Homo sapiens: one gene and its partners. The protein of the gene in region 7 interacts with the protein of the main gene of each other region in a biochemical or structural test. Each region holds a gene or a part of one and is shown on either strand. Other genes may lie near its edges.

Region 1 (4,568 bases), on a different chromosome or scaffold from region 7:
GGCGGATCACTTGAGGTCAGGAGTTCGAGACCAGCCTGGCCAAAATGGTGAAACCTCATTCTCTACTAAAAATATAAAAATTAGCCAGGTGTGGTAGCACACACCTGTAGTCCCAGCTACTTGAGAGACTGAGGCAGGAGACTCACTTGAACCTGGGAGGCAGAGGTTCCAGTGAGCTGAGAACATACCATTGCACTCCAGCTTGGACAACAGCGGGAGACTCTGTCTCAAAAAAAAAAAATGAGATTTTATTCATGCTTCATTCAGATAATTGGGTGTCTAGTATGTGCCAGGGACTGCTAGAGGGTTGTGTTTTACTCACTGATGTATCTCAAAGATCTACCCTCCACCCCAACCTACAGGGCTTACTTTGGAGAGCGGGGAAGGAGATGATGAGGGCAGGCTTCTTTTTCGATCAAAGTTCTCTATTAACCAAAACAGAAAAATTACAATTAAATCATTCTATGATAAGATCAGGAGGGGTCAGAATCCCCTTTACAACAAACAGCTGCAGCAGCCGCCTCTGATTTCTGCTTGACTTTCCACCAACTGCAAAATGACTCATCATTTCTGGCAGCTTCAGTTGGTTCTTAAGCCAAAAGCTAGCTCCCTATGGCTTCTCTGGTCCTGTTGTGCCCCATAGGACACCTTAAAAAAAATGTGTGGCCCGGGCGTGTTGGCTTATACCTGTAATCCCAGCACTTTGGGAGGCCGAGGCGGGCGGATCACAAGGTCAGGAGATCGAGACCATCCTGGCCAACATGGTAAAACTACTAAAATACAAAAAATTAGCTGGGCATGGTGGTGCGCACCTGTAATTCCAGCTACTCAGGAGGCTGAGGCAGGGGAATCGCTTGAACCCGGGAGGTGGAGATTGCAGTGAGCTGAGATGGCACCACTGCACTCCAGCCTGGTGACAGAGCAAGACAACGTCTCAAAAAAAAAAAAAAAAAGTGTGCTCCTTCTTACATGTAATAGCCTTTCAAATTCTTGAAGATGCTCTCTTCTCCAAAGCCTTACTCAAGCTAAATACTCACATGGTGGCTTCCAAAACCTCTTCCCTGGTTACCCTTGTCATTGCCTTCTTAAAGTGAAGTTCTTGAAACCGGACACAATATTGATTGAACAAATAGAACATTTAGATGTGTGAGGCATTATTCTACATGCTCTGAATATTCCAATTCAACCCTCATAGCCACCCTTCGCTGTAGCTACTACCCCTCTCTTACAACTAAGGAAACTGAAGCACAGAGAGAGGTGGTAACTATATTACCAGGTATTCCAAGTATGGTCTGACCAAGTAAGTACAGTAAGATGGTCATCTCTAGAAGCCAAGTGTCTGTCAGTTAATTTTTAAATTACCATATTTGGATGGGGCAACCACTTGGACTATGAAGTTTCTGGTCTTTTTCTGTAGTCCTCAAATCAGGTCTCACCATGTGGTATTCATACAATTTACTTTTAGGTTAGTATAGTACATCTGAAATTTATTCTTATTTCTTTAGTTTTCATTCTTTCTATCCTAACTAAATATTTTGAGTATTAATTACACCATCCAGCAAATGAATTATCTAGTGCCACTTTAAGTATGTTAATATATTTTCCATATCTCCTTTCAACTTTAAGCACATAAACGGTTAGGAACAAGTAGCATGCCATTAGAGACTTCTATTCAAGTTGATATTCAGGTTGATATCAAGTATTTTCTAGGTATGATTGTTCAAGTAGCTAAAAAAAAAAAGCCATTAATCTAATTAATTGTTTAATCCTGCTTACAAGATTATCTTGAAAAAATGTGCTGGGGAGTATGGTATAATGAATTACGGGTCCAAGAATTTGGGTTCAGATACCACCTTCAGTCTTTACTAAGCTGCGTGACTTTAGCAAAGTGCTTAGTCTCTCTAAGCTTCGGTTTCCTAATCTATGAGGAGGGCCTAAGATATCACCACCCATCATATTCCCCCCTCTGTACCGCTTATTTTAGATTCTACTATCATTGTATATCACAGAGGACATTTATCTTGTTCATCTTTACAATCAACACTTAGCAAGACAGATGGTACTTAGAAGGCCCCCCAGGTTATCTGTTAAACTAGACAACCTCAGTTCTTGTGTTAAAAGTAAAAAAAAAAAAAAAAAAAAAAAAAAAAACCTTAAAACATGCAGTAGTGGGTGTTATGATAAAGAGCTGTTAAGAGAAAATAAAGTTAGTTTGATTCAGGTTGGTCTTGGTCTATCTGTGTTTCTTTTTTATTTGCTAAGGGCTTACAAGTTGTTTAATAATCCTTTCTAGGCTTTTATGTGCAGTTGATAGCACTTAACTGACCTAAAGCTTAAAATCTAATTGTTTCCTATTTTGGGAACAATTTTATTTCCAGGCTTATATTCTCCATAGATTTTCTCAGATCACCAAGAGTAAGCCTGCAGTTATATTCACAAATTCTTTCAAAATCTTAAGACCAAGGACTTAAAACTCATTTATCAATCATTTGGCATTCTCTTATCACTACCAATTTGAGTTGAGCTTCAGTTTAGCCTTAATGATGATTGTTATGCCTCTTCCAGTTTGAGGAACAAAGTCCTAACTCAGTGCAAAAGTTGAGGTCATGAGTGAATGGGCCCAGCCTTAATGCATGAATATATGGCCTTGTATTACTTACCAGTCTGTACATGTTGTCCGTCTCTTTGTCTACCACCAACAGTGAAGTCTGATCTCCACCCTTTCTAATCATTTCTACCACACTGTCATGATCCAGGGTTTCCACAGACTCGCCGTTGACAGCAACTACCAGATCATTGTTCTTCAAGCCAGCCTCCTCTGCTGGACTTCCAGAATCTATGTCCTTGATGATTTGACCTACCCTCCCCCAACCCCAAAAAATAAAATTATCAGTAAGTCCCCTAAAAAAATAAAACAGATTTTCTGCTGGAGCCCAAAGCCCTGATGAAACAGATAAAAAAGGCATGCTGAGTACAACTACCACCCCTTCCACCAGCATCCCAGGAAGCTTATAAGCACACTATCTAGGCTCGTTTCCTGCTCAGAACTCACCCCAGAAACTAACCCAGCAATTAACAATGAAGGGGTCTTAACGAAAATAATCCTGTTACTAAAAGCGTCTGACATTTGATTTTGGCAAAATAGCATATTAAAAGGCTGCAAGTTCCCAGAAAGTCAGTGGGCATACTTGTAGCCACGCGTCTTATGTAAAAGCTGTCATAAAAGATGGGGAAGAATAAAGAACAAAACCCAAAACTTTGGACCTTAAGAAACCCAGGCTGGCATTTTAGTAGCAATTGGGTGTGTTCGGTTTTGAATATATTTGTATATACATGCCTCCATGTGCTTTGGCCTTCTGGTATCTTCACCAGATGCTGCCTTTTTTTTTTTTTTTAACAAGTTCCTGTTTCACTTTTCCAGCTAGCTGCTGGGTATCTCCAACAAAATATCTCATAGATCTCTCAACTGTAATGTATTCAAGCCAAAAATCAGCTCTGCCCATTCTCCATCCCAAAGCCCCTCCTCTTGGTTACCTGTTAGTGGAGCAACATCATCCCAGTCACCAACACTTGGCAACTGATTCTTCCCCAGCATCCAGTCCCCATATCTAGACGATTGCTAAGTCCTCTGATGCTACCATAATACCTTACACATCCCACTTCCTCTACCCTGAATGCAGTTTGTATTAGTTCCTGCCTAGAATTCTACCTAAACTATTACAGCACCTTACCTACTGCTTTCCCTTCCCCAGTCCTTCTGTCTGATACAGATCTGCCTTCAGATCCATCTTGGTGCACATTCCTAACCAAGTCACTTCCTGGTGCAACAGAATGAGCATGGGCTTTGGAACTAAACAACTATTTGACCTTACATAATTACTGTATCTTCTCCAAGCCCTCAATTTCAGCAGTTCTTCTTGCATAATTGTTAGGAGTAATTGAGATGTGCAAAGCCCCCAAGACATTATAGGCTGGTTTTTGTTCTTCTCCCTTATACTGCTCAAAAAACAACTCCCCATTGTCTGATAAGCCAAGTTCAAACTCATCAGTCTTGCATAGAAGTCCCCTTGTCACCTCTCTCCAACCTACCTTTCCAACGAATTCTTGTACTACACATCATGTGCCAATTAAACTGTGCCAGTGTCTCCTGACTGTGTTCACATGATTCCCACCTTCCTGGAATGATCTTCCTTATCCCAGCTCTGTCTACTTTCCCAAATCTATTCATGTTACAAAGCCTGAACTCAAGTGCCACCCCTACTATGAGGGCTTCTGGTACCTTTTTAGTGAGAAAAGCTTACTCTAACGTTGAATTATCACAGTGCTTGATCTGCCCCTGTATGAAGGTACTTAACCTCTATCTCCCTTCATTATGGACATATCTCTTATCTACTAAATGGTAGACTCCTTCACTAAAGAATTCCTGTCTGCTTCATATGATATTCTTTCTCCAAGGCACTGAGGATGTTTTTACAAAACACAAACCAAATTAATATTTGATAAATTAATGTAAACAGAGAGTGAAAAGAAAATAACAACTTATGGGCGAATAGCAGTTTATACGGCCC
Region 2 (4,568 bases), on a different chromosome or scaffold from region 7:
TTATTCAATATTGAACCAAACTTAAATCAGATTTGAGAAAGATAGAGGGAAAATGTAGTGGAAGGACTAAAGACTAGTAGATTTCTAGAGTTCGGGATTTTTTTGGTGTAATCATATATTCTAAACGACAAGAAAAACAGTAACAATGGGAGTAAAAATAAATAAATATAATTCATTTATCTCCCTTTTTATGAGGAAATTCTGAAGTTATCAATATATTTAATGTTCACTAATGGTGTTTATTCACAAAAAATAACAAATCCTGATCATACAAAATCAGCAGAAAAAGGTATATGGGTTCAGAGAGCCTCTAAAGAATTCTAACATCAACATCTGTGAGACAAAGTAGAGATATACAACATCACAGAAAACTTTTCCACAATATTGTAGCATACATAATATAGCTGGTAAATATTATTCAGGTAATCTTGTTTAATTAGTTAAGATTTAACTTCATAGTCACCAAGCATAGAAGGAAGACTTTTTAAAATAAAAAACATTTAGGATATACAAATTATTGTTCACCTCCCTTAAAACAGAGGAAGAAATGAAAGCTTAATGTAGAACTGAATAAAATGCATTAAGATGACAGCCTATCATTAAGAAAGCCTACACTCCAGAAGAGGAAGCACTCAGCCTTCTGAGCTCCTCCTCCTCAGCAATCCCGCCCATGACCAAGATTTCCACCATCTCTATACTGGTCATGTCCAAATCAGTAAGGCTAGGATGCTTGTTCAAGCACAAACTCTTGCTCCAACCACATAACAGACACGTGGCACAGGCTCTTCAAGTAAAAACTGAATGGCACATCTAGTCCTACAACCTATTTCTCCTCCTCTTTTCCCACGTTTGAAATATTTCTCCAGCATCTGTTTAGTCATTCAAGCTTGACTTATCAAATTATAATTGAAGAATAAGAAATACAGTGGTACACAGATATGTAGGAATATATACTTTAAACAGATTGTGCTTTTACAGAATGTTCAATAACACAAAAAAAGTAGGTGACTGCATCCTACCAAATTTTTAAAATGTCCTAATAAGAATAAAAATCAACCCAAGGAATTTGGAATTCAAGGAAATTTGGAATGCAAGGAATTTGGGGCATAAACATGCAATCTCAGATGTCTCAATTAGATAAAATACATTTTGAGAGTACACTATCTGTAAGTGAATTTTTTAGATCATCATAAAATAAGCAATATGCTATTTATAAATCTTTAGACCCATAGTAATGTGATGTTTCTAATTTACAAATATGTAAAGTTAACATTTTATGGTAGGACATCTTTGTGCTATCTCAAAGGATGGCCTGATAGTTTTTAAAGACAAGTAACACTTCAATTACAATAAACTTGCTAATGGGTTAAAAAAAAAATTAAAACTTATATAATGAAGAACTCAAAATAAGAATCTGAAAAAATACAGAGTAATAGTCATGTTAACTATGCAAAGTAAATACATTTATGATCAAAGTCCAAATAAAGCCTTAAGCCTGCTCATCATAAAAACTAGATTTAAAATATTCCCAGGCTGGGCGTGGTGGCTCACGCCCATAATCCCAGCACTTTGGGAGGCCGACGCAGGTGGATCACGAGGTCGAAGCAGGTGGATCACGAGGTCAGGAGATCGAGACCATCCTAGCTAACATGGTGAAACCCCATCTCTACTAAAAATACAAAAAATTAGCCAGGCGTGGTGGCGGGCACCTGTAGTCCCAGCTACTTGGGAGGCTGAGGCAGGAGAATGGCGTGAACCTAGGAGGTGGACCTTGCAGTGAGTGGAGACCATGCCACTGCACTCCAGCCTGGGCGACAGAGCAAGACTCTGTCCCATAACAAAAAATAAAATAAAATAAAATATTCCCAGAGAACAATTTTAGCTCAAATAAAACCAATGTATTGTGGGCAAAAAAAGATCAAATATATCAAATACTTTGATACAAAAGTATCTTTATATACATGCTTTGCTCTATAAACATGAATATTCAATATACTTTTTATTTTGGTCCATGTAGCTCAAAACAAGTGTTTTTGTTGTTTGTTTTTTTGAGACAGTCTCACTCTGTCACCCAAGGTGGAATGCGGTGGTACAATCACTACTCACTACACCTTTGACCTCCCCAGGCTCAGGTGATCCTCCCACTGCAGCCTCCAGAGTAGCTGGGACTACAGGAACATGTCAACAAACCGGGCAAATTTTTGTATTTCTTTAGAGATGGGGTTTCACCATGTTGGCCAGGCTGGTTTCAGACTCCTGGGCTCAAGCAATCCACGCACTTTGGCTTCCCAAAGTATTGGGCTTACGTGCCCAGCCCCTTGAAACATTTACAGAGTACGAAATAATGACTATGTGTGAATGAACTGCACTACCTCAATATAAAATCTGTTACAAGAATATAAAGTACGGTAAATTTTGATGTTTAAAATACAAAACAACATCAATACACATCATAGTTCCCCTTGACTTTAAATTTGGAGGTTGCTGAAATAAAAAATTATTCTGTCAATCAGTACTTATAAGCATGGAAAAGCTACATTTGAAAAAATGGAAAACAAGAATATTCTTTCTATGGACACACCTAAGTCTCATCACTCACTATGCTTACTTGCTTCAACTCTGGAAGGTTCTTAATTGTTACTTTCTGATTTGAATCTTCAGTTGCCTTTTCAGTGTTTACTGAGTTTTACATTTCCATAACATTTTACCAAGGCTTACAATTCTCATATTTTTCCTACTTGAAAGATCAGGATAAGGAGCTGGCTGCATATATGAAGAAAAATTTTAATCAAGTTGCAATATTTTCTGATTGCTGAACTCTGAACCTGTTTTAAAGAAGAGCATATTCTCCAGGGGATAGTTTATTTATTATAACAACTGCAGAATGGGAATAATCTTTTTCAGCTTTCTTACCAAGTCTTAAGTCATTATTATCATTAAGAACACTGATGTGAAACATTGTATGTTTCATGTGATATTCCACTATTAATCCATTTGGCTTTTGACATAGACAGAAATTAATGCCAGCTTTTAGAACTTAGTTCTCTGGCAGAAAAATGTTTTTTAAAAATTGTGCTCTTCAAAAATCATTTGAAATGCTATATTACTGAGAATGTTCATAAAGTCAGATAGTATAGGAATCTCCATATTCTGATGTAAAATAGAAACTAACTTTCTATCACCTTGCTATTCCATCCAAATTCTGCACCTTATCAACTGTTTCTCGAATTAAGATCTTTCTACAGAAACGCAAAAAATGTCTTTTCTTTAACTCACTCCTCATGTCATCTGGGCACAGTCATGTCACTCAAGCACACCTGCCTCACGCACATACATGTGTGTATACCTCAAGTGATTGTTTTCAGCAACAAAGCCTGTCAGTTCTTCCTTTGCCCATTTCTCCATTACCATTTGTTGTCTTTAAATGCCCAGAATAAAAGGGCACCTTTGCTAAGGAACCTGCTGAATGGGTATTGTGAAAGCTACTTACTATCCCACCCTCCAGAGAACAGCAGAAAAGATGTACATTTCTATCTGCAGTGAGACAAAGAGTCACAAGTGGGCACCATCATGGCCCCCTTTTCCTTCTTCCCGAAATCACAGTCCAAAAAACTGAGAATAGAGCTGGCCTATAGGCCCAAATCCACAGTTAATCTGCAGCAAAGGTGTTATCTATAAAAAAGGAAATAAGAGTTGATTGTGTCAAGCAGCAGAAAAACAATCATGGGAAGGGTAATCTCTGAGCCGCAACAAACGAAAATTTGGATGAGAATGTACAAAATATTGTGAAGAGAGGCAAAAGAAACATGGAATGTGCACAAATGATAGAAGACCATAAAATTATAGGAGTGAGCTCAATAGCCGATTTTTGGCTTTGTAACAAAATACGTGACTCAGCAAAAGTTTCATCACTCCACTATAAATCATTAATTTCTCTCTCTCAAGATCTGCCCTTATCTACAGAATTATCTTTTTTTTTTTTAAAGACAGGGTCTTGCTCTGTCATCCAGGCTGGAGTGCAGTGGCATGATCATAGCTCTCCATAACCTTGAACTCCTGGACTCAAGTGATTATCCCGCCCTCAGCCTCCCAAGTAGCTAGCTGGGACCCCAGGCACACCACCAAGCCTGACTAACTTTTTCTCTTTTTTGTAGAGACAGGGTCTTGATATGTTGCCCATGCTGGTCTCAAACTCCTGGGCTCAAGCAATCCTCCCACCTTGGCCTCCCAATATGCTGGGATTATAGGCAAGAGCCACCATGCCCAGCTGAGTTATTAGCAAATAGCTAGTAAATTAATGCAAAAATCCCTAGTAAATTAATAACAAAAAGATAAGCAGTCTGCATCAAACAGGAAAAGGATGTAAACAAGCCATTCACTAAAGAAAGATGAGCAAACCAATAAATCAACCTCCAAGTACAAGGTTCAATCTTACTCGCAAATCAATCAAAGGTTATCAAATTGCTCCATATATTTTCTTCAAATTAATGATATCCAACAAATACTGCTTTGCCATAGAACACTAAAAAATAAATAAAAATAATGATATTTAATACTGGTGTGGTGAA
Region 3 (4,568 bases), on a different chromosome or scaffold from region 7:
TGTTAACCTTTCATCATCAAGCAAAATAAGTGGTTGACAGACCCCAGTTCTATATGTCATAGATTCACAGCTTAAGAACCATGCCACTACTGAGGACACACACACACACACACACACACACAGACACACACACACACACGCCCCTCCTCTTAGAGTCCAGATGTTCCCAATGGCAAAAGCACTTACCCACAATGGTGGAGAATCTCCGAGTGGGCTCTTTCCCAGTCACCAGTTTGTACAGTTCTGGGTAATAAAATTCTAGGCTCTCCAAGAAGACCACATAGCCCCTTTGCCCCTTGGTATGTAGAATGTCCAACAGCCGGCCTAGGGGAAAGACCAGATCACTCTGTGAGAATACATATCTGATGGAACGCAAGTCTCTGTGGCTGGTCTCATCCTGGACTTGTGTCCTTCAATCAACTCTAAGAAGACAGTCTCCCCACATTCTATCACTTCTGAGTTGTATCTTGGAGCCCAGATGACGTAAATCAAGGTGCCAGGCCCTCCGCAGGGATTTGGTGAGCGTTAGTTTTCTGTTTCTAATAAACTGGTAGAACCAGGATAAATGGAATTGCCGCCCCAGTTTTGAAGAGTTTCCCAACTGACCAGGGCCAAAATGAACCACGTAGGCACCAGGTCTTCTATGACTGAAGGAGGTTGGAAGCACGATAAAAATTATGGAATAATATATGGTTCTCTGGGATTGAGAGCAGGAAGACAAATCTTTGGGTGAGAGGCTAGGAAAAATCATAGGAAGTAGGGATAGTTCTAGGTTTTTCTTTGGGATTATTACACAACCTGGAAACACCTTAAATGTAATTTCCCCAGCAGGTCCCAGTTTCTATACTATTGATTCCACTTATTGCTTACATTTCTGGGCCCTTCCTTAAACATTTTATTTTCAGATATTCTTCTGAGATATAGAAGAAGAAAGGTAGGTCTTAAAACTCGACCTTTTCCCTAGGACGGACAGAAGAAATAAATTTGATGGTATGTCAACCCCGATTGTTTGGTGAAGCCGCCTGCAGTACTGTTTCGAGAAACATTCCAAAGTTACATCCAAGCTCAGTGGGAAAGCATGCTGATTACTGATGTCTGCCATGGATGCCAGAGAGTCGCAGCTGATGAGCCACTTACCACCAGCCACGCTGGGGGACAGTGATTATCAAACCTTCTAAACTGATCCATAGAAAGAAAAACATTTAACATTGTGGTCTAGTGACCATAGACAAAGATAACTCTACAAGTACATGTGTATACACATGTACATAATGTAAAATTAAAACAAGCTTCACAAACCATATTTATTACCTTTACTGAATATGATAAACCCCCCCTCCAGAAGTCAGGCTAGAAAAGCTTGTGGAACCCTTCTCGGAATATTTTTAAACAGATAAAGTACATCAGATTACAAAAGAAACCAATTATAATAAAATCCAGTTATCAAATATTAAATAAATTTGTGTTTCAGTAACATACTTCTTTATTAATGCATTAAATAACAAGACCTCTCGGCAGGTCTAATAAGTACTGTAATTTTGAAAGAGAGATGAGTGTAAGTGGCATTTTGAGAGATTTGCAGTAACTGTAGTGATAGGAAGAGATCTGTAATTTTCATTGTTGCCTAAGTCACAAGAATTACTAATCACTCCTGTAATTTGTGGCTTCCTGACATTTGCAATTGAGGGCAATGCTGAATTGCAGTTGAGGTTGGTAAAATAAAGATGGCATTTCTTCCCCCCTCCCAGTTTATGGATCCTTTGAGTTCCATACACAGACAGCTTGAGTTCTATACACAAATGAGTAGGTGATGGACTGCGGACCCCAGTTTAAAAATCCCTGACCTAGAGCAACTTCATTTTGGTACAGCTACCAAAGGGTATGTCTGGAAGTTGCCGTGTGCGGTAGCCCTCCCTCTCCCGCAAAGAGGTCCTAAGGTTACCTGCTCGGTTGATCTTGGATGGCAGCATAGGGGCATTAAGCACTTCATCTTCATCCTGCTCATCAATGACCTTACACTGACGCAGGTAGGGCGTGAGCTTGGCAGGGTTGATATAGCGGCTGAGCATGTGCCGGTTACACTCCACATTCTCCCACAAGGCGTCCTCTTCATCCTTCAGCGTCTCCATGTAGTCATCCATCTCTGGCCCTCCTCCTTTTAGACATAAACCCCAACAAGCTTAATAAAGCAGTCTCACTGGAACAGCTCTATCAACTCCTCTGGAGTGACCTCTAGAATATATTAAGTTAAAAAAAAGTCCTGTACACTAAAGTATATATAGCATTTTACCTTTTGTCTAAGAAAGGGGTTATGAATATAAAAATATATATTTCCTTATATGCTAAACATAAACAATGGAAGTTTAAGCCATCAATTTTAAAAAAGATTATTTATAGGGCAGAGAGGGAAAATCCTGCGGTTGAGTCTACCCTTTCCATCCAAGTTTTTATGTCTTACTAAAAATGTATAGTTCCCTAAACAATATATACTATTGGCTTTTGTTTTAAAATTTCACATAAATGGTGTCATACTGTACGTTTCCTTTTTCAGCATGTTTTTCTCCCTCTACATTTTTTTTTGAGATTTATCTAGATGGATACATATAGATCTAAGTCATTCGTTTTTAAAAATAGCTTTATTGTGATGTAATTCACATAGCATACAAGTTACCTTTTTAATATGTTCAATTCAATGATTTTAGTATATTCACAGAGCTGTGCAACCACCACCACAATCAATTTAAAATCATTTCCGTCATTTCAAAAAGAAGCTCCTCACCCTTTATTAGCCACTCTCAATTTCCCTCTAATCCCTGCTCCTCCAGCCCTGTGTAACCACTCGTTCACCTTCTGTCTGTATAGATTTGTCTTTTCCGTACATTTTATACAAGTGAAATCCTACAATTTATGGTCTTTCATGTCTGGCTTCTTTCACTCAGCAACTTTTCAAGGTTTGTTCCTGTTGTAGCATGTATCAGGACTTCACTTATTTTAAATTGCTCAGTGATTTTTTCATTGCATGGACATGCCCCATTTTGCTTGTCTGTTCATCCACTAATGGACATTTGAGTTATTTCTACCTTTTGTCTATTATGAACAATGCTGCTATGAACATTCATGTAAAAGTTTTTGTGTGACTGTATGTTTTTATTTCCCTTGGGTAGATACGTAAGAGTGGATTGTTAGGCCATATGGCAACTCTATATTTAACATTTTGAGGAATTGCCAAATTGTTTTCCAAAGCAGCTGCATCATTTTACATTGCCACCAACAAGCCATGAGGGTTTTAATTCCTCCATATTCTTGCTAACAACTTGTTATTGTCTGTCTTTTTTATTACAGCTCTCCTACTGAGTGTGAAGTAGCATCTCATTGTGGTTTTGATTTGCATTTCCCTAATGACTAACGATGTTGAGCATCTTTTCATGTGCATATTGGCCATTTGTGTGCATTGAGAAATGTCTATTCAAATCCTTTGCCCATTTTAAAATTGTGTTGTTTGTCTTTTTATTATTGGGTTGTAGGATTTTGTTATGTATTCTGGATGCAAGCCACTTATCAGATATATGACTTGCAAATATTTTCTCCCACTCTGTCAGTTGTCTTTTCACTTTCTTAAAAGCATTGTTTGTAGCACAAAAGTTTCAAATTTTGAGGTAGTCCAATTTATTTATTTTTTCTTTTTTTCACTTGTGCTCTTGGCATGTATCCGAAACACCATTGTCTAACTCAAGATGATGAAGACTTACTCCTGTTTTTTGCCTTTGAATATTATACCTTAGTTCTTACATTGAGGATGATCCATTTTGAGTTAATTTTTGTGTATGGTGTGAGGTAGGGGTCCAGTTGCATTCTTTTATGTGTGGATGTCCAGTTGTCCAAGCACAGTTTGTTTGAAAAGACTACTCTTTCCCCATTGAATGATCTTGCTACCCTTGTTGACAATCAACTGACCATAAAAGTAAACATTTGTTTTTGCACTATTGATTCTATTCCATTGATCTATATGTGTATCCTTATGCCAGTACTACATTGTCTTGATTACCGAAGATTTGTAGATTTGTAGTAGGCCTTGAAATTGGGAGTATGGGTCTCCCAACCTTGTTCTTTTTCAAGATTGTTTTGGCTATTAGGTGCCTTTTACCTAATTTTAGGATTAGGATGTCAATTTCTGCAAAAAAGGCAGTTGGCATTTTGGTAGTGAATCTGCTGAATATGTAGATCAATTTGGAGAGTACTGCTACCTAACAATATTAAATCTTCTGATCTATGAACAGGGGGATGTCTTTCTTTAAATCTTCTTTAATTTCTTTCAGCAATGTTTCATAGTTCTCAGTGTACAAGTCTTGCACTTCTTTTGTTAAATATATTCCTAAGTATTTCATTAATTTGATGACATTATAAATGGGAGTTTTTTTCTTAATTTCATTTGTGGGATATTCATTGCTGGTCTATAGATATATAATTTATTTTTGTATATTGACCTTGTATTCTGCAACCTTGTGAAATCATTTATTAGTTCTGTTAGTTTGTTAGAGACATCTTATGATAGCCTATATATAAGATCA
Region 4 (4,568 bases), on a different chromosome or scaffold from region 7:
TTTGGGAGGTCGAGGCGGGCAGATCACTTGAGGTCGGGAGTTCGAGACCAGCCTGACCAACAAGGAGAAACCCCGTCTCTACTAAAAATACAAAAAGTAGCCGGGCATGGGTGCAGTGGCTCACACCTGTAATCCCAGCACTTTGGGAGGCCGAGGCGGGCAGATCATGAGGTCAGCAGTTCGAGACCAGCCTGGCCAACATGGTGTAACTCTGTCTCTACTAAAAATACAAAAATCAGCCAGGTGTGGTAGCAGGCATCTGTAATCCCAGCTACTTGGGATGCTGAGGCAGGAGAATCCCTTGAACCCGGGAGGCAGAGGTTGCGGTGAGCTGAGATTGTGCCACTGCACTCCAGCCTGGGAGACAAGAGAGAAACTCCGTCTCAAAAAACAAACAAACAAACAAAACAAATTAATCATCTGCCAATGTATATTTAGGGCATATGGACTTTATGTTTTATAGTTCATTTCAAAGTTTTTCAAAAAAGTCTGGGGGAGGAGGAGAAATTATCTTTCCAACCAGTGACCAGGTTGGGCCAATTCTACCTCCTTAATACCTCACTATCCCACTTAACTGCTGCCACCACTGGGTCCAGGACCTTATCTCACACCTGAACTACTGTATTTGTTTCTAACAACAAAACATACTTCTTGGTGGCTGGGCACGGTGGCTCACACCTGTAATCCCAGCATTTTGGGAGGCCGAGGTGGGTGGATCACGAGGTCGGGAGATCGAGACCATCCTGGCTAACATGGTGAAACCCCGTCTCTACTAAAAATACAAAAAAATTAGCCAGGCATGGTGGCGAGCGGCAGTAGTCCCAGCTACTCGGGAGGCTGAGACAAGAGAATTGTGTGAACCCGGGAGGTGGAGCTTGCAGTCAGCCGAGATAGCGCCACTGCGCTCCAGCCTGGGTGACAGAGACTCCGTCTCAAAAAAAAAAAAAAAACCATACTTCTTGGTTTCCATATTATCTTAGTATAATCACTAGTAGTCTTACCTTTCACATGGAAAATATCCCAGTTTGGATAAAATACATGTCCAGTCTACCTGTATACCTATAAGCCTCCCTGTCTCTAGTCTGCTCCTCCCCACTCAATTACATCTCCAAAATGCTCACATAGTAGTCTTTATAAAACTGATCTTATTTCCAGGCTTTAAACCCTGCAACGGTTCTTTCTCCTTTATTTATAAGATGGAGTCCAAATTTCTGAAATTATCCAAACCCTGCTAGTACGTCCAGCTTCATCATTAAACATCTCACATCATGTACCATCATCCCCAAACATCCTAGACATTAGCCCCAGTGTTCTGCAACCTTTTTTTCATTTTCATCCCCTCCCAAAGAACCTTTCAGACAATTTTTCGTAAGCACTGCCCCATCTCTAATTAAATACTAAAGAATAAGACACTGTCAGTTTAGGGCTGAGTTTTAGAGGGCCACAAACCATACCAATAGCTGTGATTTTTTTTCCCACTCCCATAAAAGGCAATTTTTGCATCTTTGGGAGCGATATCACTTCCAACGGGAATGCCTGCTCTAGACTTACAGATTGGCTTCTTATTCTACAAGTATACATGGCTTGCCATCATCAGTACTTTTGCTCCTGCCTCTCTGCTTGGAATGACCTCTCTTGATCATCCAGAAATCAATTCATGACATTTAACACTGGGAATTCAATGCTCCCCCATGAAGCTTGTTCCCTTCCCCATCTTGCAATCCCAAAGCCCTACTCATACCTTTGTCACTAATAACTAAAACATTTATTACATTTATGTTTTCTTATGTCTCCCAAGTCATTGATGAATAGGGACCATGTCTAACTCCTCTCTACAACCTTGGTTTTTAATATATCAGATATATTATTTCTTAAATGAATGTACAAATTAATGTTATCATCTGGGTGAGGTAACCATATCTCAGTTTAAGCGGGACAGTCCCTCTTTAACCTGTTACTCTGAAATAAATATTAACAGCTTCTCTTTTAATTCACAAAAATGATTTGAACAACATATTGTTAATCTATACCTAGGAAATATAGGAAATAAAATTCTGAGCAAGAGTAGAACATAATCAGATCTGAGAGGAAGATCACTCTAGCAGCAAGACTCAATGACTCAAGCAATAATTTGGGGGTAGAAACAATAAAACAGACTGAATTAGAGTAGTAAAACTTGTAAGAAAAGGGCAAATAAAAAGATTCAGGGGACAAAGTTTAGTGGCAAGTTGCATCTATGAGGAATGAAGAGAAATAATACAAATTCCTAGAGACAGCAACTCGGCCAGCTGCCAACAGATTATGAAGGAAGAGGAATAATGATGGCTCAATTTAGGACAAGTGGTTGAAGAACCTGGAGGACAAGATGGTTGATATATGAAGCTGAAGCACATAAAATTTAGGGGATAAGTTGGAAAACATAATCCTAGGAGGCATTAGCCTATAACAACTAACTGAAACCAAGCTGCTGAGTAAGACTGTCCAAGAAACAAAAAGTTAGCAGTTCCAATGAATACGAAGTGCTACCTTTTTAACATATGATGACTTTACAAAATGTATTTCCAAATTTTGGCTTGTAAAATATTTATTCATCATTTAATATGTGCAAATCATGGCATTAAGCACTGAGAGGGAAATAAACATTAAGGGAAATATAAGGAGTTCATTCTGAAGTAAAAAAAGGAACGTTATAAAGAATGGTATTAAATGTGGATTGAGCTGAGAAACAGCCAAGTTCAAGGTCTAATTATGACTGTGGCTTCTTTAAGGAATTCTGGCATAATGACGCAAAGAAGTACAGGCATACTCTGTTTTATTGTGCTTGGCTGGTATTGTGGGGTTGTTTTCTTTTTTTTTAAATACAAATTGAAGGTTCATGACAACCCTGCATCAAGCAAGTCCAACAGCACCATTTTTTTCAACAGCACATGCTCACTTCATGTCTCCGTGTCACATTTTGGTAATTCTCACAACATTTCAAACTTTTTCATTATATTTGCTATGGTGGCCTGTGATCAGCAATCTTTCATGTTACTACTGTAATTGTTTTGGGGCACCACAAACTGTGCCCATGTAAGATGGCAAACGTAACTGATGTATGTGTTCCAACTGTTCCACTGGCTGTTCCACCTTCTCTATCTCCCTCTCTTGGGGCCTCCCTATTCCCTGAGACATAACAATACGGAAATTAGGCCAATTAATAACCCTACAATGGCCCCTAAGTGTTCAAGTGAAAAGAGTCACCTATCTCTCACTTTAAATCAAAAGCTAGAAATGATTAAACTTAGGAAGGCTAACAACGGCCCAAAGCCAGGCCTCTTGCACCACACAGTTAGCCATGTTGTGAATGCAAAGAAAAGGCACATGGAGAAAATTAAAAGTGCTACTTTAGTGAACAAAAAAATGATTTAAAAAAAAAAAGTGAAAAAGTCTTATTGCTGATATGGAGAAAGTTTGAGTGGTCTAGATAAACCATCAAACCAGCCACAACAGTCCCTTAAGCCAAAACCTAATCCACAGCAAGGCCCTAACTTTTCAATTCTAAAAAGGTTGAGAGATGAGATGGCTGCAGAAGAAAAGTTTGAAGCTGGTGGAAGTTGGTTCATGAAGTTTACGAAAAAAAGCCACCTCCACTAACATAAAAAGTAAGTTATCCTGAAGATCTAGCTAAGATAATTAATGAAGGTGGCTACACTAAAAATCAGATTTTTAATGTAGACAAAACAGCCTTATATCAGAAGAAGATGCCACCTAAGACTTCCATAACTAGAGAGGAGAAATCAATGCCTGGCTTCAAAGCTTCAAAGGACAGGCTGACTCCTGTTAGAGGATAATGCAGCTGGTGACTTTAAGTTGAAGCCAATGATCATTTACCATTCTGAAAACCCTAAGGCCCTTAAGAATTATGTTAAATCTATTCTGCCTGTGCTCAGTAAATAAACAACAAAGCCTAAATGACAGCACGTTTGTTTACAGTATGGGTTAATGAATATTTTAAGTCCACTGATGAGACCCACTGCTCAGAAAAAAAGATTCATTTCAAAATACTACTACTCACTGACAATGCATCTTGTCACTCAAGAGCTCAGATGGAGGTACACAAGGAGATTAGTGATTTTTTTCAGGCCTGCTAATACAACATCCATTCTGTGGCCCATGGATCAAGGAAAAGTTTCAACCTTCAAGTCTTGTTATTTAAGAAACACATTTCATAAAGCTACAGCTGACATAGACAGTGATTCCCTAACAGATCTGTGAAAAGAAAATTGAAAACTGTCTTGAAATGATTCATCATTCCAGATGCCATTAAAACCATCTGTGGGCCAGGCATGGTGACTCACGCCTGTAATCCCAACACTTTGGGAGGCTGAGGTGGGAGGATCACTTGAGCCTAGGAGTTCAAGACCAGTCCAGGCAATGTATTGAGACTATCACTTAAAAGAAAAAAAAAATTGTGAAGCATGGGAGGAGGTCAAAATATCAACACTAACAGGAGTTTGAAAGAGGTTGAATCCAACCTTTATGAATGACTTTGAAGGGTACAACACTTCAGTGAAGGAAGCAACTGC
Region 5 (4,568 bases), on a different chromosome or scaffold from region 7:
GCTACTCGGGAGGCTGAGGCAGGAGAATGGCGTGAACCCGGGAGGCGGAGCTTGCAGTGAGCCGAGATCGCGCCACTGCACTCCGGCCTGGGCGACCTAGCGAGACTCCGTCTCAAAAAAAAAAAAAAAAAAAAAAAAAAAAAAAAAACTTAAGCTCATTTTTTTCCTTTAGTAAGTTACATTGACTTTAAAAGTGAGCCACAGTTTGTATTTTGACAAAGGTAGAAGGACAAGGAGCATTTGCCTTTTTATTATTTAAAAGTAAAAATAAACATGGAAAAGGTAAAAAGCTGTGGGATTGTCAGTAACACTGCACTGAGAATTAGCAAAATTGACCTTAGGGAACAAAGCTCTGCTAAGCTAAAGGTATGAGGTAGAAAATATTTTCCTCTTTATGTACCTCATCTTCCTTTAGCCTTTTAGGTAATGGGAAAGGATAAAAAAGAGATTTCTTTTTTTTTTTCTTTTCTTTTTGAGACGGAGTCTCACTGTGTTGCCCAGGCTGGAGTGCATTGGTGCAACCTTGGCTCATTGCAACCTCTGCCTCCCGGGTTCAAGCGATTCTCCTGCCTCAGCCTCCCAAGTAGCTGGGATTACAGGCGCATGCCACCATGCCCAGTTAATTTTTTTTTTTTTTTGTATGTTAGGTAGAGATGGGGTTTCACCATGTTGGCCAGGCTGGTTTTGAACTCCTGACCTCAGGTGATCCACCCACCTCAGACTCCCAAAGTGCTGGGATTACAGGAGTGAGCCACCGTACCCAGCCAGAAAAGAGATTTCTGATTGTGTTAAACTACAGATTGTAATTCAGTAGGTCGGGGGTATGGCCTGAAATTCTGCATTTCATCCCTGCTCTAGTAAACTCATTGTCTAATGGAGAAGGCAGGAACAAAACAAAGAAAAATGACATGCAATGCTATGAGTAAAAAAAAAAAAACAATCATTTTGCATAAAATTCATTCTAAAAGCAAATGTAATATTTAAACAGGAACCAAAAGCAATCAGTGCAAAGGGACTCAGAAAGGATGATCACATGCTATGTGTCAAACAGCATTGCACTCTCTTAGGTTTTCACATGTATTTGGGCAACTAGAAACCCTGACATTTCCACTAGAGACACGGAATACAATTTAAGAATACATGACACGGCAATGTATTTGAGAGGCCAAGGCAGGCAGCTCACTTGAAGTCAGGAGTGCTGGTTGTGGCTTTTCTCTCATCTATAAGCAGGTCAAGAGGTCAAGACTAAAAACCTGGACAGATGACATTATGTAATTAGCATTTTTAAATGAGAGATAGTTCTTCATATGCAGCATCAAGGAGTCTTCAAGGACCTACATTTCATAGCAAAGCTGGTCATTTGGCATAAACCTGGGTTTAATATCCAGGGCTTTTGGCACAGCATGGTGGCTCATGCCTGTAATCCTAACACTTTGGGAGGCCAAGGCAGGAGGATCACTTGAACTCAGGAGTTTGAGACCAGCCTGGGCAACATAGTGAGACATCGTCTCTATTAAATAAATAAATAAATAAATAAAATCCAGGGCTTTGGGTAACTAGCCAATGAAAACAGAAAGCACGGGGAAGAGAGAAATTTCAAAGGAAGCCGGAGCTAGAACCCTAGTGTTCTCAGTGGGATGAGATCACACACCAGGATAACAATCTTGAATTTTTTCTAACTATTGACTTAAGGTCCAAGAACAGAAAAGCACCATTCCACAGCTCTCTACACAAGAGTGGCACCCAAGTCTGCATCATGGAATATGTAAAGTCCTTTTTTGTTTTTGTTTTTGTAGATATGGTGTCTTGCTGTCTTGCCCAGGCTAGTCTCAAACTCCTGGCCCCAAGCAGTCATCCCAAATGTGCTGGGATTACAGGCATGAGCCACCACCCCTGGCCTGGAATTAATAAAGTCTTTGAAAGTTAAGAAGAAACATGAAGCAACAAGGAAAGTGATCACTTACCAAGTTCACCAGAGGACCACCAGAATTCCCATACTAAAAGCAGAATTTGAAAAAGACATCAGTGAAGCTAATGAATACATTCCCCCTTGTCCTTTACACATAGCTCCCAAAACAGTTTACCAAAAGCAGCCCACCAAGCTCCTATTCCCCCCAGGCCGGCAAAATTGTGCCCCTATCATCACCAATACCAAAGTCAGTGTAGGTAAAGAACTATAGCAGTGGGACCACCACCTTCATTTTTTTTTTTTTTTTTTGAGACGGAGTCTTACTCTGTTGCCCAGGCTGGAATGCAATGGCGCAATCTCGACTCACTGCAACCTCTGCCTCCCGGTTCAAGTGATTCTCCTGCCTCAGCCTGCTGAGTAGCTGGGATTACAGGCACCCGCCACCATGCCCAGCTAATTTTTGTATTTTTAGTAGAGACAGGGTTTCATCATGTTGGCCAGACTGGTCTCGAATGCCTGACCTCATGATCCACCCCCTTCGGCCTCCCAAAGTGCTGGGATTACAGGCATGAGCCACCGTGCCTGGCCAAGGGACCACCACCTTCTTACAGGAGGGGTGACCTCTACAACAGACCACCTAATAGCATGGATGCCAGCGATCACAGCGAACGAGACAGACTCTAACAAAGTGGCATTCCATTCCTCCCACAGTGATTCAACCAAACCTGGACATCCCCAAAGTTCACTCTGACATATTCTTCTCACTGAACTGCCAATATTGTGTGATCTGAGGAAAGGCCTCCTAAGTCAGCAATCCCCAAACTTTTTGGCACAGGGACCGGCTTTGTGGAAGACAATTTTTCCACAGACGGAGGGGTGGTTTGGGATGAAACTGCTCCACCTCAGATCATCGGGCATGAGTTAGATTCTATAAGGAACATGCAATCCAGATCCCTTGCATGCGCAGTTCACAATAGGGTTTGCACTCCTATGAGAATTTAATGCCGCCACTGATCTGACAGGAGGTGGAACTCGGGCAGTCATTCTCACTCGCCCATGGCTCACAGCCTGCTGTGCGGCCCAGTTCCTAACAGGCCATGGACCTGTACTGGTCCACAGCCCATGGGTTGGGCACCTCTGTCCTAAGTGACTTACATTAATTGTGGCATCAATCTGGACGTAGTCCATATCTGAATCCTTCATCCCCAGTTCTTTGCCCCCTCGCTGTTTGGTGCTGACAATTCCTGCAGTAGCTGTGTTCTGCAGAGAAAATGGGCTGCCCAAAGCCACCACAAACTCTCCAGCCCGAAGGTCAGATGATCTTCCCAGCATCAGTACAGGAAGTTCAGCCTGCACGTGCCCAAAAAGGGATGGGGAGGACAGAAAGGGTAAAGAACAAATCACGATCAGAATTGACCAAAGTGTGTGTCTAACACATATATGACGCTGTCTCTATCACCTTGGCCCTTACCACCTGAGAAGCACCCACTCACACAGCTTCTATGATTGCCTTCTACTTCTTCCTCAAAGTCCAACTACCATGAAGCTCTTGAGTGTTAAGATGACTAGGATCATTTCTAAGATCTAAAACAATTACTTTGTAGAAATTACTATTAGTAAACAGCCAGTGAAGTCACTGATGAACATAAACTGACATTAGGAATTTACACAGCACCATTCCAGCTCAAAGCTTAACAGTCAAAGTGAATAAGCCACAAACAGAAAGGAGATCACCCAGGGTGACACTTCTCACACTGTAATGTGCATGCAAATCACCTAGGGATGTTATGTTAATGCAGATTCTGAGTCAGCACATCTATCTGGGTAAAGGCTGAGACTCTGAACTTCTAAAAAGCTCTCAGACACCATGTCAATATATGTGATGTGCAGACTACCAGTACTATGTGTAGGAAGGACTTCAAAGTATTCCTTAGCAACTTTGAGTCCATCGCAGTAATTTCTGATATCCTAAGACAAGTAGAGAAATAATTTTCCCTGAAGCAGCATTTGTTGAAGGAGGAAAAAAAAAAAAAAAAGACTGCTTGATAGTTAATAGAAACAGTTAGAGGCCAAGCGCAGTGGCTCACACCTGTAATCCCAGCACTTTGGGAGGCCGAAGCGGGCGGATCACTTGAGGTCAGGAGTTCGAGACCAGCCTGGCCAACATGGTAAAACCCAGTCTCTACTAAAAGTACAAAAATTAGCCAGGCGTGGTGGCAGGCACCTGTAATCCCAGGTACTCAGGAAGCTGAGGCAGGAGAATCACTTGAACCCAGGAGGCAGAGGTTGCAGTGAGCTGAGATTGAGCCACTGTACTCCAGCCTGGGTGACAGAGGGAGACTGTTTCAAAAAAAAAGAAAGAAAAGAAAGAAACGGTTAGGGATATACAGAAAGGCGTTGAAGCAAATAAATAAAAGAGGGAGTAAAGAACAGAAAGAAACCAGAGAAAAGCATATATTCAACAGAAAAGATGTGGTGTGAGAGTGTAGTGGGGCAGAAAATATCAGCAAATAGATAAAAATCCCCAAATATGTAGACTCTGACTCAGCCCTGAAATACTCACATTTGATTCAATCTTAATCACCGCAAGATCCAATTTAAGGTCAATATCCTTGACAACAGCTTCATAACGGGCCCCATTCTGGAGCACCACCTCAAT
Region 6 (4,568 bases), 8.9 Mb from region 7:
GAGTAGATTTAAGTACATTTTATTGTCTCATTTGAACAAAAGTTATCTTGTAGAAAGATTTCCAAAACACATCAGTATTATCCATATGACACTAGGTCTTAAAAATAAATTACTACTGAAAGATGATTTAGATATTTAAAAACAATCCTCAGAATATATTATTGTATTGTATACAAAATATAAACCACTGTCAAAATGTACACTTTTGTTTCTCCTACCTGGATGTTCTTTTAGGATGAAACACAGCTCGTATCTTGGTTACTGACAGAAAGATTACTTAATATTACCTGATTCAAGATATTTACAAACTGCTAAGGCACTGACACTTTCTATATTCTGAATAAGGTAAAAAATAAAACATCTAACTTCACATATGGTAATCCAGGAAGAAAGTTCTTGGGTTTTTTTTTTTTTTTTTTTTTTTTTTGAGACAGAATTTCACCCTTGTTGCCCAGGCTGGAGTGCAGTAGCACGATCTCGGCTCACTGCGACCTCCACCTCCTGGGTTCAAGTGATTCTCCTGTCTCAGCCTCCCTAGTAGCTGGGATTACAGGTGCCTGCCACCACACCCAGCTAATTTTTTGTATTTTTAGTAGAGACGGGGGTTTCACTATGTTGGCCAGGCTGGTCTCGAACTCCTGACCTCAGGTGATCCACCCACCTCAGCCTCCCAAAGTGCTGGGATTAGAGGCATAAGCCCAGCTCGAAAGTTCTTGTTTTTAAACCTCCGGGAACCAGGTGTAAGGCAAATTTCACAAAGTCTGATTACTCAGTGTTCTATGAAAGTATATAGGAATACAGAACTCAGAACTCAGGCTCTCCAGAAGAAAACCTCTATTCCCCTTCATGTTTCCAAGGAAACATTTAAAAAGAAAAAAAAAGCAGTTTTGGTTGAGACTTGACACAGTGAACTGAAACATGAGGAAGTTTTAAGCATCTTGTTCAGGTGCTGCTGATAGGGACACTGATGAAAGCTCATGGAGCTGGGGACGGACGCCTCCAAGCTTCTTCTCAAGAGTAACTGCTTTGGACACTGACCATTTTGAGCCCTAAAATTTTGTTTTTCAAGTTTTCTGATGATATCAGGGAGATAGTTTAATGAGGTAGCAATGCCTCAAATCCTTTTCATGGTAGGAGATAGCTCAGGGGTATCTCCTGCCCATGGTTTTGGGTAGGGCTGGTGGGAACCTGGGAGCTGGCTGCAGCTGAACTCTCAGGAGAACCCAGGGTTTTACATCAAAATGGGTGAAGCAGAGGGATACTCCTTGTATATGAAACAGATATTAGGGATTCTCAACAGGAAGGTTTTAGGGCACAAGTACACCAGGCCCAGAACCCTCTCTGTGCCAAATGTCAGACAATTTATCCCCTTTCTCACACTACCAGGGTAAAAGTGAACTTACCTGTAAAATATTCTCCAAATTCTTGTTCTAGCTTAATTGCTCGATCATAGGTTTTCTTGGCTTGTTCCTCTGTTAGACGCTTATTCATCTCCCTGGGAAAATGAGGGTTTGTATTAGAACATAAAGGGAATATTCCAAATCCTAAAAAATTAAAATGTATGGCAAAAATAAATCCTACAGAAAACATAGTGTAATCTTAGCAACAGGTTTTTAGTCTTCATTCAGGACTCCTCTGTGCTGGAATAATTTCAGCAACAAGGACTCACGGCCAGAAAGCTCATTCTCTCAAAGGGCAGTCTCTTGGTCCCACATTGGATTGAAGCCAAATATGTCTCCTTATGATTTGTAGTCACTGGTCCCTGTTCTGCAGGGACCTAATATCCTCCATGGTAGGCCCTAGGATATTTAAGTAAAGTGCTTAAGTGTGTCTTGAGGCTTCTACTTCTTCAGAATAAACTGTCCTATTGCTTCATCTATCCCCTCATTGGATGTGATTTCTAAATCTGAACTTTCCTGACCACCCTTTCTTGGAGTTTGTTCTAGTGTATCTCAGACTTTCTGAAATGTGAGAGTAGAATGGTAGTTATCAGAGACTGGGAAGGGAAGGCAGGAGGGGAGATGAAGAGAAGCTGGTTAAGGGGTATAAAATGCAGTTATAGGAATATTTCAAAATAGCTAGAAGAGAAGAACTGTAATGTTCCCAAAACATTTCTGGTGATGGATATTCCAGTTACCCTGATTTGATCATTACACATTGTATACAGGTATTAAAATATGACATATACTCCAAAAATTTGTACAACTATTATATATAAATTTTTTTTAAAAGGCTCAAGGATAAATCAAGGTGGGAGAGAAATGAAAAATTCTTGAATTCTCTCTAAAACCTAATCTATTGATTCTTAACTACTGGCAGCTTTATCTTTCCGGGTCTTCCAGGTGTTAAAAAAAAAATGTCCTGCCAAATGCAATTTGGTTGGCTGATCAGGATGCATCACAGGTGCATGTAGAATTTCTGAAATCATTACCGTCTTGCATGCTGCTTAGGAAGCCAGAGATTTGGGTCTGGAACATCTGGCCTTAGTCAATTCCTTTCGAGAGCAAGTAACAGAGGCAAGAAGGGATGTGCTTAAGGCTGTGTATTTAACGAAGAGTAATCTGGGGTAAGAACTCAAGGTTTTGGTTTTTTAAACCAATTTTCAGTTAGACTTCCTATTATACCAAGACTTGATATCTTTCAAAAGAGGCTATTTGGAAAAAAAAAAAACAATATATTGACATTAGACATTAATGGCTGAAATACAAAGTAGTGAGAATTTCCTGAACTCTTGTTGCTAAACTCATCTTGTCCTGAGGGGTGTTATGTATAATTTTTCTTCCAAACAGTCTCAGCTGTACATGCTGTGAATGGATGTTACTCGTGGGTGGAGAAGATGCTGGGCTAAACCAAGGGACACTCTTCAGAGAAAGATAAATATTTGCTCCAGATGTCAAGAAATCATGTGGGCCAGGCACAGTGGTTCACGTCTGTAATCCCAACACCTTGGGAGGCTGAGGCAGGTGGATCACTTGTGCTCAGGAGTTCAAGACCAGCCTGGGCAACAGGGTGAAACCCTGTCTCCACAAAAAAAATACAAACATTAGCTGGGTATGGTGGCACATACCTTTAGTCCCAGCTACTTGGGAGGCTGAGGTGGGAACATGGCTTGAGCCCACGAGGTCATGACTGCAGTGAGCCATGATGGCACCACTACACTCCAGCTTGGGCTGGACAGAGCAAGACCCTGTCTCAAAGAAAGAAATCACATAGTTCTGGATCATCTTCGACCTGCCTTCCAAGAATTCTGTCTTCTCTGAATTCCCTTTTTACTGATTACAGCAATGACTTAGTTTAGGTTTTTATTCTCTGACCTGTGAATTTATTTTGTCTCCTTGACTGATCAGTAATTCTTTGAGGGCGAAGACCATGGCTTGTTTGTCAGCATGTGGCATGGAGACTGATTCAACATTTATTTGTTGAATGAATAGATGAGTAAATGAATGAATGAATGAACAAATGGGGAGCTAGATAAACATAATTATAAGATAGTTGAAGACAGAAGTAAACACAGAGCATCATGGGAGCAGGAAGGTAAAAGCAGATTGGAAGTGGCAGGGTGAAGGGAGATTGCCACATGGAAAGGGAACAGAAGTCAGATGGTGGCACAATATAAAAAGAACATCCCTTTCATACACATCTTTGATTTTATGCTCCTCTGAAGAGTCAGCTATGTATGTGCTAATAAGCTCTGTGATTTGATGTGGATGATGCACTTGAGAAATAATGTGTGTGATGATGTATCAATGTGTAAATGTGACAGCTGTCATGCTTTTGTTCCGGCTGACCTAGCATTCACTACTCTCTGGGGAATGGGCAATTCATGGCAGCTTTGCTCCTGGAGTAAAAGCCTTGGAAAAGAGTGAACTGTAAAGTAAACATCCAACCTTTAGTAGGTAGATTGCATTGGTCTGAATGTCACCATCACTGCACTTGAGACCCATGAATATGGCTGCAGCAAATTATGTCAGATTCACTGTCCTTATTGTGAAGTCCAGCCTTTAGTACATTTAACTTTCCTTGGTGATAAGTGGCTGTGACAGTGCCCTAAGGCATAACTAAAATAAGTCATCTCATAGTTGTGGAAGGCAGTAGACCTTCTCCTATGGAATGCCAGATGGGACTGTCTCCTAATATTGCACCGGACCAAATGTGCCACTGCTGTCGTTCCCTCAGGCCTCATTCCCCTGGGAAGCCATTTATCCCACTGAGTGTTTACAATATGAAGATTTATTTTTCTATTTCTGAAACAGGCCTTTAAGATGGCTGTTCCCAGGAAGTAAGGACTATTTTTCTTCTCATTAATGTTAGCATTACTTATATTTATGAGGCTCTTGACAGATTATAAATCAATTTTACATCATGAAATTTGTACTTGCTTAATTCACTTTGTGCAATGCCCGACATAGTATCCTATACAAGGAGAAATTTAATACATGCTATTGGGGATGATAATATTAAGAATCATTATTTTATCATTAGTACATATTTTTCCATGTGCCAGCCATGGGAAAAACTCTTTATATTATAATTTAATACCTAAATTCATGGGGCTGAAGGTACTGTCA
Region 7 (4,568 bases):
TATCAATATTAAAGCAACTATCCGTATTTCCATCTGATATTGTAAATAGCACTTTTCCATTGAAGCCAGAGTCGGCATCATAGGCTTTAATCTTCAGAATGTTAGCACCAACTGGCAGATCCTCCTTTACAGCCACATCAGAAGGAAAAGACTTGTCAAAATATGGTCCCTGTCTATTAATTGAATAAAAGTCAAGAAATCCATCTTCCAGATTCAGTTTCCCATTTGCTTTTGCCTTAATGAGTAGTTTCTCTGCCAGCTTTTGAGCCACACGAGTTTCTCTGCAACTGAAGCTCTTTGAAGACACTTTCCCATGTAGGACTGAAATGTTAATAGACATGGGGTCTGCAAGATTCTCTCCATCAGTTGCTGTAATTCTGAGGGCAAAATTGCCATTTTTAATGCCAGAATTTGTCAGTGATTTTTTAAGCTGTAAAACACCAGAATCTGGGTTTAAATAAAAGAAGCCAAGTTCATTTCCAGAAATGATTTTGTACTTTACAAGTTCAAGTTCATCGATATCGATCGCTGAGACTGCTGTGATGTGACCACCAACTGGAAAGTCATATGAAATAACTCCCTGGCAAGCCACTTTTTCAAAGAGAGGGCTGTTGTCGTTGACATTTCCTATTCGAATAGTCACATTGACCTCACTTTCATGGCGGTATGGTGAACCCCAGTCAGAGGCTCTAACAATGAATCTGTAAATTTCTGGGGAGGATTCAAAATCCAGTTCTTCAGTTGTGCTAATAACACCTGTAAACTGATTAATGACAAATGGTAACAAATTCAGGCTAGCGATACTATAGGTGATGTACCCATTTTCTCCTTTATCCTTATCAGAAGCTGAAACTGTTAGAACGCTGGTTCCCACTGGGACACTTTCATTCACATAAGCATCATACAGTGGTTGCTGAAATTCTGGGGTGTGGTCATTTGCATCTTCTATGCTGATGGTGACCTGTGCTTTTAAATCTCCTTCCTTGTTTGTCACCTCCAGTTTATAAACCTCCTTCTTAACAGTATTCAGTGGCCGTGCTGTAACAATCAGACCCGACCGAGGATTAATTTTAAAGTACACTGCATCCTCACCAGGAGATAATTTGTATTCCACATCTATCGGTTCAGGACTTAATTTTACTATAGCAACCACGACACCAGGAGGGGAAAATTCACTTATGCTCACATCGTACACTTCTTTTTCAAATCTAATGGGGACAGTGTCTCTTGTGGGGTTGCCAATGTAGACTGCCTTTAATGCTGAACATTTTTGAGGAGATCCCTTGTCTTTTGCTTGAAGAGTGAGATTGTAGCCATAGGGAAAGCTCTCCCAGTCAATCTGCTTCCTCTCCTTAATCTTGTACTCATTCAACCACTTTCCTTCCTTAGCCAGGAAGAACTGATCTAAAGGATCCCCAGCCACAATGGAAACAGATTCGATCTCTCCATTCGCTCCATCATCTAAGTCATCAACTGTCACCACTGCATATGTTGGCTCTTTTTCCAACGAGAAAGGAACATGAGTGACTACATGGATTGTTGGGGCATGTTCATTTATGCGCTCAATGTGAACATAAAGCTTTGCAGTACTGCTCACTCCATTGTTCCCATACAGTTTCATTCCCCGGTCCACAGCCAAAATTTCCAGATCATACCTATTCTTTTCATCATAATTTAATCGACCACTTAAGGAGATGACACCACTCGTGGGGTGAACTGAAAAGAGATCAACTTTATTTTTAAAGTAGTAGTAGAATTCTCCATTGGAACCAATATCTGCGTCTGTTGCAGTCACCTGGGCAACACTAGTCCTTAGAGGTGTGCTTTCTGCTATGGTAACAGAGTATGTTGTGGGTGAAAACAAAGGTCTCAGATCATTCATATCTAAAACCTGTATATTCACTTTGGTCCATGCTTCCAAATCCTCTCCTCTGACAGAACCTTTTACTATCAATAAATAATTATCCTGGATTTCCCTATTTAATATGGCAGAATTGCCACCTTTAGTTCTTATTCTGAGAAAACAGAAATCTGCAATGATGACTTCCTCTGCTTTGAAAAAGCCTTCCTCGTCTCCGGACACTATTCTGTATTTGATATCCCAGGATAGATCTATTAAGGTGATGCCCATTCTACTCTGGCTGTTGACGTAGGTCCTTGCTGCTGAGTTCTCATACACGGTAGCATTATAAATGGAATGTGTGAAGTGGAAGCCCAGGGGTCCAGTCCCTGGCAGCCCCTGGGAGACAGTGGCCAAAAGCTTGAAAAGCAGGAGGATGAGGCAACAAGCAGGAGGCCGTGTGCCCACACAGTGTCCCATAATTATATCCATCACATCATACTTCCATCCTGGAGGGAAGAAAGAGAGAGAGAAAAGATAAATTAACCATCCTAGAAGAAGGGGGAGAGTGGGAAATAACTATTAGGAAGCCATGCTTTTTAAAACTTTATCACAAAATCTTTTTACTAAAACAGCAATATAAGAAAAAATTAGAAACCTTGCCACTACTAGGTAATAAGGAACTTAAGATTACTAGAATTTAGCCCAATCTTGTAAGAATTGTTTTCAAGTGACACTTTGTTTTAAATAACACTTTTATACTACTGACAGCGTTGTTCATTGGTACAAGATTTCTTACATTCTGAAGGTCAATTTAGAGATATATTGGAAGCCTTAAGTGCATTTACCTTTGACTTAGAACTGCCTTTGCAGTAATTATCCTATAGAAACATTTAGACAATTATCTGTTATAGCACAGTTTAAAGTAAAAAAAAAATGAAGAGATGCTAAATGCCTATCAATAGAGGACTGAATAATTCATGGTGTATTCATAAAATAAAATATTATGCAGTCATTAAAAATAGAGACATAAAAGATGTGCATTTTCAGATGCAGTAAGATGTAATGCTAAGGAAAAAAGGTCATCAAACAGTATATATAGCATGAGTTCTATTATTATATAAACACCTATATGTGCAAATGAATTTTTATATTTAAAAAGGATTAACTGTGTTTTGGGATTTGGTGGCATATTTGCATTTTCTAACTTTTCTTCAATGAACATTGTTCATCAATAGTTACATAATTACTTTTATAATTATAATCTTTTTAAAATGCTTCAAGGTATTACCATCTTTTATTGTGCTTACTTTTAAACTGATCAAGGTTTATGAATAATGCAATGCCATGAGAATGAACAAAGTGTCAAGTTACAAAGCAGAGACAATAATCCCTAAGGAGTTATATGACTGGAGTGATATCCAGAACTATTCAGAACAAGGGAGGTAAGAGTGATTACTTGCAAGAAAAACTTTAGAAATTACAAGAGATACTTCCAATTACTTTCATCAATGACTATTAAATTTGGACAGTTTCTACAGTTTCATGACTATGTGGGTTAAAAGATACAAACTTTTTCCTATTTTAGCCAGTAAAATCAATCAAGGAGAAGGGAGAAAGGAGGTATTCAACAAGAAAAAGTTAAGTCTATTCATACCCAAAGGATCAGATTTTTAGAACCCCCAAATATGAGTTCTTCCATCCAGTCTTATACTCTGCAAGCCCTTGACATTCTCCTTTTCTTCCTTTACAGGGAACGTGAAGATGAGAGGAGATGGAAAATGAATTTCTTTGCAGGCATGTAATGATGTAGGCACTGTGTCAGTCATTTTTCCACTTTGTTGTATTTAATCTTCATGATAATCCTAAGTAATAGGTACTATTTTACCCAATGACATATTAGAAAACTGAGGGTCAGAGAAGTTAATCTATTTAGTTGAGACATTTGCCCAAACAATGTTCCCCAGCCGGCAAGTAGTAAAGCAGGATCTCAGACCTTAATCTTTCTCTAAAATCCATGCTTTTCCCCATCACACAATCACTCTCTCAAAATTACCTGCAAGCAAGAATGAAATAATTAAGGATCCTAGAAGCATATATGACATAATTTAATTCTAATGAAATAGTCAACATATGTCATTGATTTTAAAAAGTACAACCCATCCCTGCCCCCAGCATATCTTTTTGGTTATCTCCTCTCTGGTTTTAATGTAGTTCTAGTTATTGGCTGCAAACTGAAAAAAAAAAAAATCCCTACAGGAGTTTAACATATTAAAATATTACAAATTGTATGGTTTATAAAACCCTTTCATATCCAAGGTTAGCAAGGCACATATTATTATAACCTTTTTGTTAATGATAATATAAAACCTCATTTTCCTATCTCGACTTTATTAGTTAAGTCTAAATAGACTTAACTTTTTCTTGTTGAATACCTCCTTTCTCCCCTCTCCTTGATTAATTTTACTGGCTAAAATAGGAAAAAGTTTTTACCTTTTAACCCACATAGTCATGAAACTGTGGAAACTGTCTAAATTTAATAGTCATTGATAGAGTCTAGCAGACTCTAGATTAGAGCTCAGGCTCTCTCCATACCCCACAAGGCTTTTCTTTTTTTTTTTTTTTCAGCTCCACCTTACAGGAGACTCTCCTGAAGTGAAACCCTGAGCATGCAAATGCTGGTTCTGCCTGGGAATGTAAGATATCTTGCTGCTATCATTTGCTGAAG

What was found.
Region 1: the proteins of FAT3 (region 7) and PDZK1 interact in a test that uses a peptide from one of them, tested with the Homo sapiens proteins (one large-scale study listed by IntAct).
Region 2: the proteins of FAT3 (region 7) and PARD3 interact in a test that uses a peptide from one of them, tested with the Homo sapiens proteins (one large-scale study listed by IntAct).
Region 3: the proteins of FAT3 (region 7) and CARD11 interact in a test that uses a peptide from one of them, tested with the Homo sapiens proteins (one large-scale study listed by IntAct).
Region 4: the proteins of FAT3 (region 7) and RAPGEF6 interact in a test that uses a peptide from one of them, tested with the Homo sapiens proteins (one large-scale study listed by IntAct).
Region 5: the proteins of FAT3 (region 7) and HTRA4 interact in a test that uses a peptide from one of them, tested with the Homo sapiens proteins (one large-scale study listed by IntAct).
Region 6: the proteins of FAT3 (region 7) and DLG2 interact in a test that uses a peptide from one of them, tested with the Homo sapiens proteins (one large-scale study listed by IntAct).

The regions. Positions count from the first base shown.
Region 1 is NC_000001.11:145,675,789-145,680,356, forward strand, and holds part of PDZK1 (Na(+)/H(+) exchange regulatory cofactor NHE-RF3), read right to left. Parts: intron 2,858-4,568; coding exon 2,661-2,857; intron 426-2,660; coding exon of another isoform or gene 370-425; intron 1-369. UniProt on the Homo sapiens protein: A scaffold protein that connects plasma membrane proteins and regulatory components, regulating their surface expression in epithelial cells apical domains.
Region 2 is NC_000010.11:34,360,465-34,365,032, forward strand, and holds part of PARD3 (partitioning defective 3 homolog), read right to left. Parts: intron 1-4,568. UniProt on the Homo sapiens protein: Adapter protein involved in asymmetrical cell division and cell polarization processes. Seems to play a central role in the formation of epithelial tight junctions. Targets the phosphatase PTEN to cell junctions.
Region 3 is NC_000007.14:2,945,633-2,950,200, forward strand, and holds part of CARD11 (caspase recruitment domain-containing protein 11), read right to left. Parts: intron 2,156-4,568; coding exon 1,943-2,155; intron 1,456-1,942; exon of another isoform or gene 965-1,455; intron 325-964; coding exon 187-324; intron 1-186. UniProt on the Homo sapiens protein: Adapter protein that plays a key role in adaptive immune response by transducing the activation of NF-kappa-B downstream of T-cell receptor (TCR) and B-cell receptor (BCR) engagement.
Region 4 is NC_000005.10:131,624,878-131,629,445, forward strand, and holds part of RAPGEF6 (rap guanine nucleotide exchange factor 6), read right to left. Parts: intron 1-4,568. UniProt on the Homo sapiens protein: Guanine nucleotide exchange factor (GEF) for Rap1A, Rap2A and M-Ras GTPases. Does not interact with cAMP.
Region 5 is NC_000008.11:38,976,644-38,981,211, reverse strand, and holds part of HTRA4 (serine protease HTRA4 precursor), read right to left. Parts: coding exon 4,473-4,568; intron 3,260-4,472; coding exon 3,065-3,259; intron 1,998-3,064; coding exon 1,965-1,997; intron 1,254-1,964; coding exon of another isoform or gene 1,221-1,253; exon of another isoform or gene 727-1,220; intron 1-726. UniProt on the Homo sapiens protein: Serine protease.
Region 6 is NC_000011.10:83,460,599-83,465,166, forward strand, and holds part of DLG2 (disks large homolog 2), read right to left. Parts: intron 1,496-4,568; coding exon 1,404-1,495; intron 1-1,403. UniProt on the Homo sapiens protein: Required for perception of chronic pain through NMDA receptor signaling. Regulates surface expression of NMDA receptors in dorsal horn neurons of the spinal cord.
Region 7 is NC_000011.10:92,349,877-92,354,444, reverse strand, and holds part of FAT3 (protocadherin Fat 3 isoform 1 precursor), read right to left. Parts: intron 2,350-4,568; 5' UTR 2,333-2,349; coding exon 1-2,332.